Linked DNA regions of Homo sapiens: region 2 is linked to region 1. Evidence: fine-mapped expression QTL. A gene starts in region 1. The other region holds a variant in brackets. All regions are shown on one strand. Distances are from middle to middle.

Region 1 (5,372 bases):
TAATTCAATGGAAAAAATAATAAAATACTGAATAAACAGCAAGCATTGTTTGGAGTGTGGAGGAACAGTAACTATCCTTCTCTGCTGGTGGGAGTACAGTCGGTTCGGGTACTGTGGAGGGCTGTTTGGCAGCCAAAAATTGAACCACATATATCCTGTGATGTGGCAATTCAACGTCTTAGTAGTTCCTCTAGTGCAATACGTGCACATGTCTAGAAGCAGACAAACACAGTGAGGTTCATTGGTAAGACTGAAAAATTGGAAAAGCTTAAATATCTATCGAAAAGAAAACGGCTAAATAAAAGAAGTGTACACTGTGAAATATGACGTAGCAGTTAAAATAAATGAAGTAGAGCTCTATACAGATATGGAAAGTCTCCAAGTCTTGCTATTGAGTGGAAAAACAGAATTAGAACAACATGGCAACAGATAGGTTTAATAGTCCATCTATGCATAGATGAACACACACACAGACACAATGGTCTGGCAGTAAATATATCACACTAAGTACTTTTGGGGAAACTGGAGATTAGGATTGACAGAATGGCCAAAGGTGAATTTAGGTTTATCTATACTGCTTTCTCATTTTCAAGGAGCATGAAATCATGTATTACTTTATAATTTAAAAAGTTATTACCTAAAAAACCTAGTCTAGTCAGTTTTGTGGTTGTCTTGGGTTTATTCCATAATAATTTTGGAACAAGTTGACAGCTTTTAGATCAGGAGTTGGCAAACTTTTTCTGTTAAAGGCCAGATAGTTAATATTTTAGGCTTTGTGGGCCATACTGTCTCTTTCGCAATTGGTCAATTTTGCTGACTCAATGAATCAGCTATAGCAGGCACTATTCCTCTCCCACATGGCCTCTAATGATATGGCCAGAGTTGAAAGGATGTTGTAGGGCAAAAACAGCCATATACAATACATAACGAATGGGCATGGCTGTGTTCCAATAAAGCTTCATTTATAAAAACAGCTGGTGGGCCAGAGTTAGCCTGTGAGCCATAGTTTGTCAACCCCAGGTTTAGACTTTTATGACATAACTAAAATATTTTTAAAGCGTATTTGTGTACCACAAAATACTTTTTCCCATTAACCAACTGATTAAATAAGCCTCTGAGGCCTCCCTTAGCATCCTTTCAACTCTGACCATATCATTAGAGGCCATGTGGGAGAGGAATAGTGCCTGCTATAGCTGATTCATTGAGTCAAGACTCAGTGGCCTCAGAGGTGTCTGTTGACCTGTCCTAGATATGGAGTGGCCTTAAAGCAGTGCCTCTGGCCATAGCTTCAGCCGAGCTGGGCTGTAAAGTGGAGAGAAGAAGGACCTGGTGGCACTGACCACATGCAGGCAAGACTCGGTTCTGTGGGACAAGGTGCCCTTTCAATAGTAGAGGTAGAAAACTCACTGGTTTGAAGCCAACTCAGCCGCAGCACTGTGCAGGGGTATGGCAGGTGCTCTGAGGGACCCCTCCTTGAAGTGGTGAGTCCTGGTGACTGTCATGCTGCTGTCCTTGGCCTCAGGGGGCTGCCAGCACTAACCCAGCAGGCCAAAAGGAATCAGGACTGAGTTGATCCCAGTTCCCATAGTCCCCAGCTCCCACAGTCCTTGGAGGTGGTATTTCCTGGGTCCAGGGACTCCAGCCCTGTAACAGGGAGCTGGTTGTATGTGTGACTTGTGGTAACTCATGCAGTAGTTAAGGCTTCTCCTGTGGTGATTTTTCTAGGAGGCTAGTGCAGGACCAGAGAGCATCAGTAATGGGGCTCAACATTAAGTGATTGTTTTCATGCTTTTTTTTTTCCACCCTAGAAATGAGGAGACAGCAGCAAGGCCAACATGATTCACGACCCACTATGATGCTGACCTCAAACAGAAGGTATATTTGTGTTCACACACATCTTTTGGCTGGAGCTGAAGGGCGGTCAGCCCCCAGCAAAAGAGAAAGAAAGAAAAACCATACCTGCTTGGTGGTAAGTTCTTTGCTCCGACTTCTCCCCTGGGGTCCACTTTGAACAATCCGGTGCAAAGGATCGATCAAGGAGTAGCTTTACCAAGGAGCCGCTGCCTTGTTCAGGACAGGAGTATTAGCTTATTCTCTTGCTTTTCTCACTGTGAACACTTGGCTTGCAGGCTGAGGCCGAGATTCCCACTGAAGTAAAGGCAGTGCTTCCTCTTCCCGTCCTAGTCATAGGTTATGATTTCCCCGGATATGAGACAATCTTGTCTCTCACCTATATTTCAGTCCAAGTCAGATGTAGGCACTAAGCGGCTCCATTGCCCCTCCTAAGTCCCAAGTCCAGCACTTGAACTAGCAAATGAAGAGATTACCGTATTTGTTCTCATTATGTTCTCCCTACTTTTTTCTTTCAGGTCTCTTCACTACAAAAACACAGGAAAAGGGGAAGAGAGTGGCAAATATCCGCTTTGTCTAAGTAATTCTGAGTGCATTTCATCAGTCTGAGGGTCTCTGTCCTTTACCACTAGGGGCAACATTAATTTGAACCTAGATCTCCTTATACTTCCTCCTTTGTTGAAACCACCTCCCTGGATAGTGTTACTTGATGTGAAAGTGAGCAAAGTATTGATTTATGACGGTGCCAATCACCAGCATGGTTATGTAAGAGGGGGGCAGGCACACAGGGAGAGGGAAAGGGTGTGAGATGAGGGGGCTGAGCACAGTTCTCGAGAATGTGACCCCACCACTTTGATCTCAGAACAGAAGGCTGACCAGGAGTGGGGAGGATGGACCAGCTGAGGGCTCTTTCCTCTCCCGGGTCCTGCCAGAGGGGAGCTGAAGAGTCCTCACTCTTCAGCCTCAACCTTCTTATTCCCTAGCAGCAGGTGCTCCCAAGTGAACAGAATCAACAAAAGCCGAATGTGGTGGATACCAGGATGTGTTTCTTCTACTTGCTTTGTTTATAAAGATGCTTTATGGCAGGTGAGGGGAGTGGAAGTAACTGCTCCTACCTAAAAGGCAAACAAGTACAAGCCTCTGGCAACAGTAAAGCAGGGGCATGGGCCCCAACAAGAGAGGGAGAGGGAGACCACGATTGAGCAAACAGGTAGAAAAGAGAACCTGGGATTGCCAAAAAATGACCACAGTTGTCTTCAGGTGAACATTTGGACTTCCTTACATTTATTTATTGACTTAAGTTGTTATTATTTTGAAGTACATGCTTTAATCCAGCCCTGGTGAGAAAAGCCAGAATATCTAAGTATGATTTGTTTGTTTTGTTTTTAATTGGTTTCTTCTCTATCCAATTTGCACTTCCCAAGGGATGAGAAAGACTTGAGGCTGGGATTTCCTAGGGGTTGACATTTCTCAAGTGGATGCTTGCCTTGCTGTTTTCAACCAAGCGCAGAATGTAAGGTGCTTACACAGCTCACTGCTGGGGACTTACTGCCAGCAGTGGGGACTGGGACCCACAGCCATAGAGCTCTGTCCTTTTTCCAGTCACATTTCTGATTATCCACATGGGATTCTGCTAGGGCTAGGAGGTATTGGATTACAAATCCCACTGGACAGAAAGTTGACTTGGGCCTTAGGCAGGGAGGACCTAGAGTAAGTGAAATATTGAATGTCATGAGGATATTGGAAAGAAAAAGAGTAAGTGAAATACTGGATTTCAGTACCAGTGGAAGTAGCCTGAACAGTGTGCTCTGGGGTAGGAGGACAGCATGGGGCTATATCTGGGGCCTGCAGGTCCCCTGAGAAACACAGATCAGAAGGCCATGGCTAAAGCCAAAGAGGGTGGGAAAGCTGGAAAGGGTTAAGAACTCACCCCAGGAAACTTATTTCCAAGATCAAAAGTAGGCCTTTCTGCACTGACAGGTATCTCCAAGTCCAGGGAAAAAAGGCATGACTCCAGCTCAGGTAGGCCACCTTGCCAGAAGTCCTTAGGTTATGGGTAACATACGTAGCTTTCATCATCTCTCAAATCCCTTCTGGCTCACAAGGGCCTGACCTTCTCTCTCTTAAAAATATAGTGAATTATTTACAGCAGAAACAGGAAACTAAGAACAGATTATGAAACCACTGAGGTAAAGGAAATATTCTCAGGTTTCTGCAGGGATCTTTGGGTCTCTTTTCCTTTGGGTCTGTGGTGTGAAGTCCCAGCTAGAAGACAGGAGAAGGCTGTAGGAGTGCCAGGCCTCTCTAGTCTAGCACTGCACTGTTAATATCAGACATGGCTCTATAGTGAAATGAGTTAAGAATACAGCCAGAAAATACACTCTCGTTCTTAAGGACAGCTTACTAATGCCCTCAGTTGAGGGCCAGAGTCACTCTCAAGCCCAGCTGGGAAGTCAGAGAAATTTGAGGCCTTGACCTCCATTCTATACTTTGCCTATTGCAGCAACCAGAAATGTAGAGCTCCTAAGAAACTCATCAGAGAAAAGCAGATCTGATCAGCCTGAAGAGTTTCTTTTTTTTTTTTGAGACAGTGTTTTGCTGTGTCACCCAGGCTGGAGTGCAGTGGCATGGTCATGGCTCACTGCAGCCTCAACCTCCTGGGCTAAAGCAATCCTCCCACCTCAGCATCCCAAATACCTGAGACTACAGGTGTGTGCCACCATGCTTGGCTAATTTTTTTTTTTGTTTTTCTTTTGTAGAGACGAGGTCTCATTATGTTGCCCAAGCTGGTCTCAAACTCTGGGGCTCAAGCAATCTGTCTGCCTTGGCCTCCCAAATTGCTGAAATTACAGGCATAAGCCATTGTACCTGGCCAGTTTCCTCAGTGTGAATTCATTTAATGTTTTACCCCTCTCCAGAGAATATTAATATTTAAAAAGAGGAACAGAGAGAACAAAATAAAAGAGTGATGCACTGATGATATAAATTCAGGTGGAATCTGAGGAAAATAGGTGTTTATCAGCCAGTCACATGGTCTTTCTCAAAAATCTCTTAGCCTCCCTCTGGGGTGTGCTCAGGGGCACTTAGGGCAGGAGCATGGAGGTGACACTCTGATCCCCATGAGGCAGTCTTGGAGGAAACTTCTCCCTTTTCATCCTTAAGTGGAGGTAGTAGAAGTTACCCAAAAAGGCTAGGAATAGGAATCTTCTCTTTGAAAGCGGTTTCATTTTATCACAAGTAGAAGCAGTGACACAAAGTTTAACTTCCCAGAAATCGCAGATTCCAGCAACTGGAGGACCACTAAATTTGAGCACCAGCTGTTCCAGATCCTATAATTACTCTGAGGCTCCATAAATTACACTTGTGGTCAGAATTCCAATGTCTCTCTTAGAATTTTGGAACACTTTGTTTTCACCTCATTTGTAAATTACACTGCAGAATATGGTATCTGTGACTTCCTGCCTTAGTTGCTTATAAGCCCCCTGAGAGGAGAAGCCCTTATATCACCTGGTACCAATTGC
Region 2 (5,372 bases), 28 kb before region 1:
CTCTATCAGATGAAGGTGCTTTGGGGATCTATGAATTAATGGTCACACACATCCCTGCTTGGTTAAAATGGAGGGTAAGGGGGACTGCAACCATGGTGTGTCATCCCAAGCATTCCAGATGTTGGGCTCAGGAGACTCAGAAGGTTTAGGGTGCTATGGATGGGAAGAGCAGATCTGAGGTCACTGGGCTAATCCAGTTATTTGGGCTGTGAAGGGCCACTTGAGATATCTATCAGTGCAAAGGGGAAGGAGGGCACTTAGAGCACAGACATAGTTAATGTGCTGGGATCAAGAAACACCAGTTCACAAAAGTCACACCCCCAACAGGTCCTGATCCTGTCCTCATAAAGCCCCGAATGCCAGCAACACTGGGGAACTGCCTAGCTTTCCCTCCACTTATTGCTTAGACCCAGTTCCTACCTGCCTTAAAGGAGAGAGCAGTGATTTTTCAAACCTGAACCTGCAACAGAATCACCGGGGGGTCCTGCCCCTCCCTGGAGCTTCAGATTCAGGAGATCTGAGGTGACCTGAAAATCTGCATGCTGATGCTGCTGACCCAGGGACCACACTTTCAGAACCTTTGGGAATGAGACTAAGGCTTTGAGGAGCTAGCACAGATGCAGGACCAGCTCTCCAAATCTACCCTCCACCACTGATTAGCTGTGACCTTGTATAAGTTTCTTATCCTTGGGGAACCTCAGTTTCTATGTGAGAATGAAGATGGCAGTGACACCTCGGGTCACTGTGCAGTTCCTCCTACCCGGAAATTCTTGAAATGGGAGAAGGTAGTGTCAAAGGTTTTCATCTGAGCGTCCATCAGCTCCCTGATCATCATCCGCTGCTCCTCTGTCAGCCCCTGCACTCCCAGTGGCTGAGTCCCTGTCCGTTCACTTTTCTTCCGCTTGATCAAGGCCCGCCTCTCCTCCACGGCCTCGTCGGACATGATCACTGCAGGGACAGTGAGGCTGGCTCAGGCACACGTGCCCCTGGTGAGCCTCCAGCCCCCTGGAGAGCCACTGTGTAACCCTCTCAAGGCAGCAGAAGCCGTTAGGCAAAAGAGAAAGTAATGGTGACAAGCAATTCTCCCCTGTCTGGACTCAAGAGGCCTGTGGGCTCTTCTGGAGAAACACTTGGGTGAGGACAGAGATGAGGTGAGGCTGGTGTTTTGCCCTCTGCAGTGGAGTTTGTGAGGACACTGTGGGGCCCTGGCAAGAGCACGGGCTTCAGAATCCAAAGGCGCTGGGTTTGCATGAAAGCTTTGCCACTTACTACCTGTGACCCCAAGCAACCTCCTTAACCTCTCCTGCCTCCAGGTTTCTCCTTTGTGATCCGGAGAAACCGTGTTTACCTCGCACCGCTGTTAAATGAGACCTTGCATGTAGGGTGCCTAATATAGTTCCTGGTACATAAGAGATGTTCAGTAAATGGCATCTACAATTATCATTTTCTGGTGAATTATATACCAAGACTCTTCAGAGGTGTCTGGGTCTCCAAGACCCTAGAGAGCTGGGCTACAGCTTAGCAAGAAATAGCAACTCCAGAGACTTCTTATATAGCCCAGAGCCTTAGGGTCTTCTGTGGATTTCTGGAGCCCACTCATGTGTGTAGAACAAAGCTATGAGGTCCTTGGTGGGGAGAGATCAAGAATGCCTGCCAGCAGCCTAGAGAACTTGTCCTTGAAAGAAGCAGCTTTGGGTCCCTTTGTGTTCCATGGAGACAAATATGCACTAGAAACACCTAGCCTTTTCCGCATGAGCCTTAATCTCATAGTGACCTAGGAGCACAAATATATCAAAGTTAAATAGGTAGAATGAGAACACCTCATGTCACCTGTCTGCAAACAGTTCCCCTATAAAGATCCAGGTCTGGGGCAGCTGATGGGGCTAGCACCTAGAAGGCCCCGGGTCCTATCACCCATGTGGCTCCTGCTTCCCTCCCCCAGATTCACACTCCTACCCGCAAATGTGGTTTCAAACCATTACAACAATTATGAAGGGGACAAAAAGAATGATGCAGGAGCAACTGAGGGGAGACAGAGGGCACGCCCTGTCCAGGGCTGCCCAGCACACATCCCAGGGCAGAGATTACCGACTCCCTCCATCTCCCAGAGGGCCGACTGCAAGCGCTCCCCCAGGTGGCTGCCTGTTGCACACGGACACCAGCTCACATGTGCACGTGTGTTCACGCGCACACTCGGCGCGCATCTCCACACAAGCATGC[C/A]CACACCCACGGCACGTCCTTACTCAGAGCCGTGCACCCCGGCGCCGGCCCGCCCGCGCGCCCACTGCTCACTCTCCTTCTTCATGCCGCTCTCCAGGCACTTGCGCAGGCGGCAGGCCTGGCACTGTCGCCGGGTCTTCCGGGTGATCTCGCAGGCGCCCTTCCGGAAGGGGCACCTCAGCCGGGCGTTGCGTTTCATGGCCCTCCTGTGAGAGAATGGGGAGCAGAAGGGGGGATGCACGGGTGCCCGGGCCCTCGGCCTGGGGCTCCGGGCCATACCACCTCCCTCCCCAGCCCCTACCGACTCGGGGAGGGGGACACTAGCCTTTGCGTCCCAGCTGGGTCAGGCTTTATGGGAAGGGTGTAGGTGGGAGTCCCTAGAGGTCCAGGACTCAGCTAGAGGGGGCAGAGCCGGGGAGGAGACCTTTTCTGGCCATTCCGGCAGGAAATGGGACACGTGCTTTTCGCTGGCGCGGGCAGCCCCAAAACCACTTTCAGGGACACTTCCTCTCCAGGCCCATCCTCAGCGCCTTCCCTTCTTCCTGAAACACCTGTCCCCTTCTCTTTCACAGCCTTGTTACCAGAAAGTTTCCATGGAGATGGGCCTCTTCCTCGATTTCCCCTCCTTAAGGGAGGGAGCTGAGGAAACCTGACCCCAGGAGGGTAAGAAACCAGAGAAGCCCGCCCCACCCCCCCGCCTTCCCCCCCGCCTTCCCCCCACCCCCCGCCGCCTTCTCCAGCTCCCCTTCCAGACTGGGCGGCCAGGGAGGAAGGGGTGAACTATGGGGAAGTTCTTATACCCTACGGGGCAGCGACTTCCCCATGGCAGAGTGGATTCCCCTCGTTGACCTAGGGGGCAAAGAGGTCGAGCGCCTGGAACAGCAGAGCGTGCAGGCGGGACCCACGGGCCCGCACACCCCTCTCTGCGGTGCGCAGAGAGGCAATGGGGCAGATGCCTTTTGGAGACTCTGGTACAAGATCTCCTCCTCCCAGCCCGGAAGTCCTGCCTGTCCCACAAAAGACACGGTCAGTGCAGTCCTACCTTTACTTTCCCCATCTCCACAGCTGGATGGAAAGAAACAATCTCTCCCTTGGCTCTGGCCTCTGATTCTGGTCCAGAGTGGAAACTGAGGGAAGGCTGGCCCAGGAGCATGGAACAGCCAGGTAGGGCTGCAGAGGTCCCCGAGGGCAGGCCTGGGAAGCTGAGCCAAGCCCGCAGTGACCTGGCAGGTTTGAGCTTGGAGGCCTCGGGCCTCGGACCAGTGACCAGCCCAGGGGCATGTTCTTCACAGATGCCATCCCTGCCTTTTGCCTTCCCAACTGGCCTGGGTAAGAAAACTCTGATGCTACATCAAAGTCCACTGAGAATGGGTAAAAGATGAAACCGGGGCTCACATTATTTAAAGGTATGCTATGTATCAGATGCTAGGCTAGGTATTTTGCAGTTTTGTAAATTTAGTTCTAAAACCCTGTGAAACTCATAATCTCATCTGCCTAGCACAGATGAGGGAGACTGAGGCTTGGAGACGATGGATCCCCAGCTGTCCTCCAGGTACATGACAAGCTGAAATTTGAATCCAGGTCTGCCTGATACTGGATTTAGCTTTTGCCCACTACAACATGTTGCCTTTTTCTGAGAGTCCCAGGAATAGTACCCAAATGAGGAAGGGAGAGCAGAAGATTCCTGCATGCTGAGGCAGGATGCACGAACACTGCTTGGGCAGCCTCTTCTGTGCCAGCAGCATCTGGAGCTGGTGCAGACATCCACCCTCTTCCACACAGTCAAGTGGCGTGTGCCCAGCTCAGGGACATACCTGCTGCTCTTTGCTAGTGACTAGTTCAGGCATAGGCTGGGCCCGGCTCTAGCCAATGTGAGGGGACTCCTGGGAAAGATTTCCTTACTCTCAAAGATGGGCCTTTGTGCGCTTCTGCTGAACATAATGATTCCTGCCTGGGGCCCCAGCACTGTGCCCCCACAAGGGGAGCCAGACTGCAATCAGAGCTCTCAGGTGGGATGGCTGAAGAGAAAAATGGAAAGAAATGAGCTGCTGAACTCACTAACCTGGAGGCCTTCAGACTTCCTGTTAGGAGAGGTAACACATTTTCCTTATTGCCAAACCAATTGGCGACAAGTGTCCTGTGACTTGTAGCTGAACCCAGTCTGACACTGCTGATGTGTCTCACCCCTGTTATAACTCATGCAACACGAATGTTCATTTCTCCCTGGAACCTGCCCTTTTCCATTTGAATGCCCAGCCACCACGAAGAACTCTGCAAAGGGCTGTCAGGCTGGCTGTCTTGGGAATGCATGAGGGTCCCACATGTGGCTCCCGAGATGGGAGCTGCTCCTTGCATACCCTGTGCCCTCCGGAGGGTGCACCTGGAGTGCTTCCTCACACATGGCTTTCTCCCCTCCCCGCCCTTCCCCTCCCTTCGGTCTGTTTCTCTTCCCATGGTCTAAGCATTTATTTTATGCCATTCTTTATGTAACAACCACCCCAGAAGGCGGATGTGAACACTTGGATTTGGGATTTTCAAATTCCTTATCTTTCACTGAGTCATTTTCCATTTTATTCAAGAGCACATGGAGAAACCAAGGGATATCTTAATGGAAGGAGACCTTTCCTGGGTAGAACAGGAAGACTGAAGATGAAGGATTCCTCTGGGATATAAATGGCTCCCTTGAGACTAATTACAAGGCCTTTGGGTGGGCCACCAGCCCACACTCTGAACCTGGGGGACAGGTCAAGCTGAGGCCCTGAGACGTTACCCAGTGGGTCAGTGGTGGCACGTGGGTGAAGGCTGATGGGTAACTCTACCTGAAAAAGCCCTTGCATCCTTCACATGTCATGACATTGAAGTGATAGCCAGTGGCCTTGTCCCCACATACACGGCAGATTTGGGGACCTCCGACTTCCTCATCTGCGTTGACACTGGGCTTTCCAGGAACAGACTCTGTGTCCTCACAGTGTACAAAGTCAGCATGGTTCCAGCTTTCTTTGGGTCTCACCTCCAGGTTTGCTTCTGGGCCTCTTGGACTAGAAATGAGAAAACCACAGAGAATGAAAAGACTGGACAGGGATGTGTAGAGGCCTCAGAGGAAACACTCTGTCCCTTCTATGCATCACTCACATTTGGGCCTGTGAACTCGG

The links. PIP is the estimated chance that this variant, and not a neighbour inherited with it, causes the effect.
Region 2: its variant is fine-mapped to the expression of NR1I2 in hypothalamus (GTEx, PIP above 0.99). The same link has a PIP of 0.9 or more in whole blood.

Annotation. Positions count from the first base shown.
Region 1 is chr3:119,778,888-119,784,259 of GRCh38, reverse strand. NR1I2 (nuclear receptor subfamily 1 group I member 2) reads right to left here and starts at 2,159. Exons shown (of 9, transcript NM_003889.4): 1 at 1,960-2,159.
Region 2 is chr3:119,807,115-119,812,486 of GRCh38, reverse strand. NR1I2 (nuclear receptor subfamily 1 group I member 2) reads right to left here. Exons shown (of 9, transcript NM_003889.4): 2 at 5,040-5,258; 3 at 2,293-2,426; 4 at 761-948. The coding sequence starts at 5,236. Among named protein-coding and RNA genes, the nearest start is that of NR1I2, 28 kb to the right of the region's middle. RefSeq lists enhancers at 2,251-2,310, 2,288-2,791 and a silencer at 2,521-2,780. The variant C/A (reference allele first, on the strand shown) is at 2,221.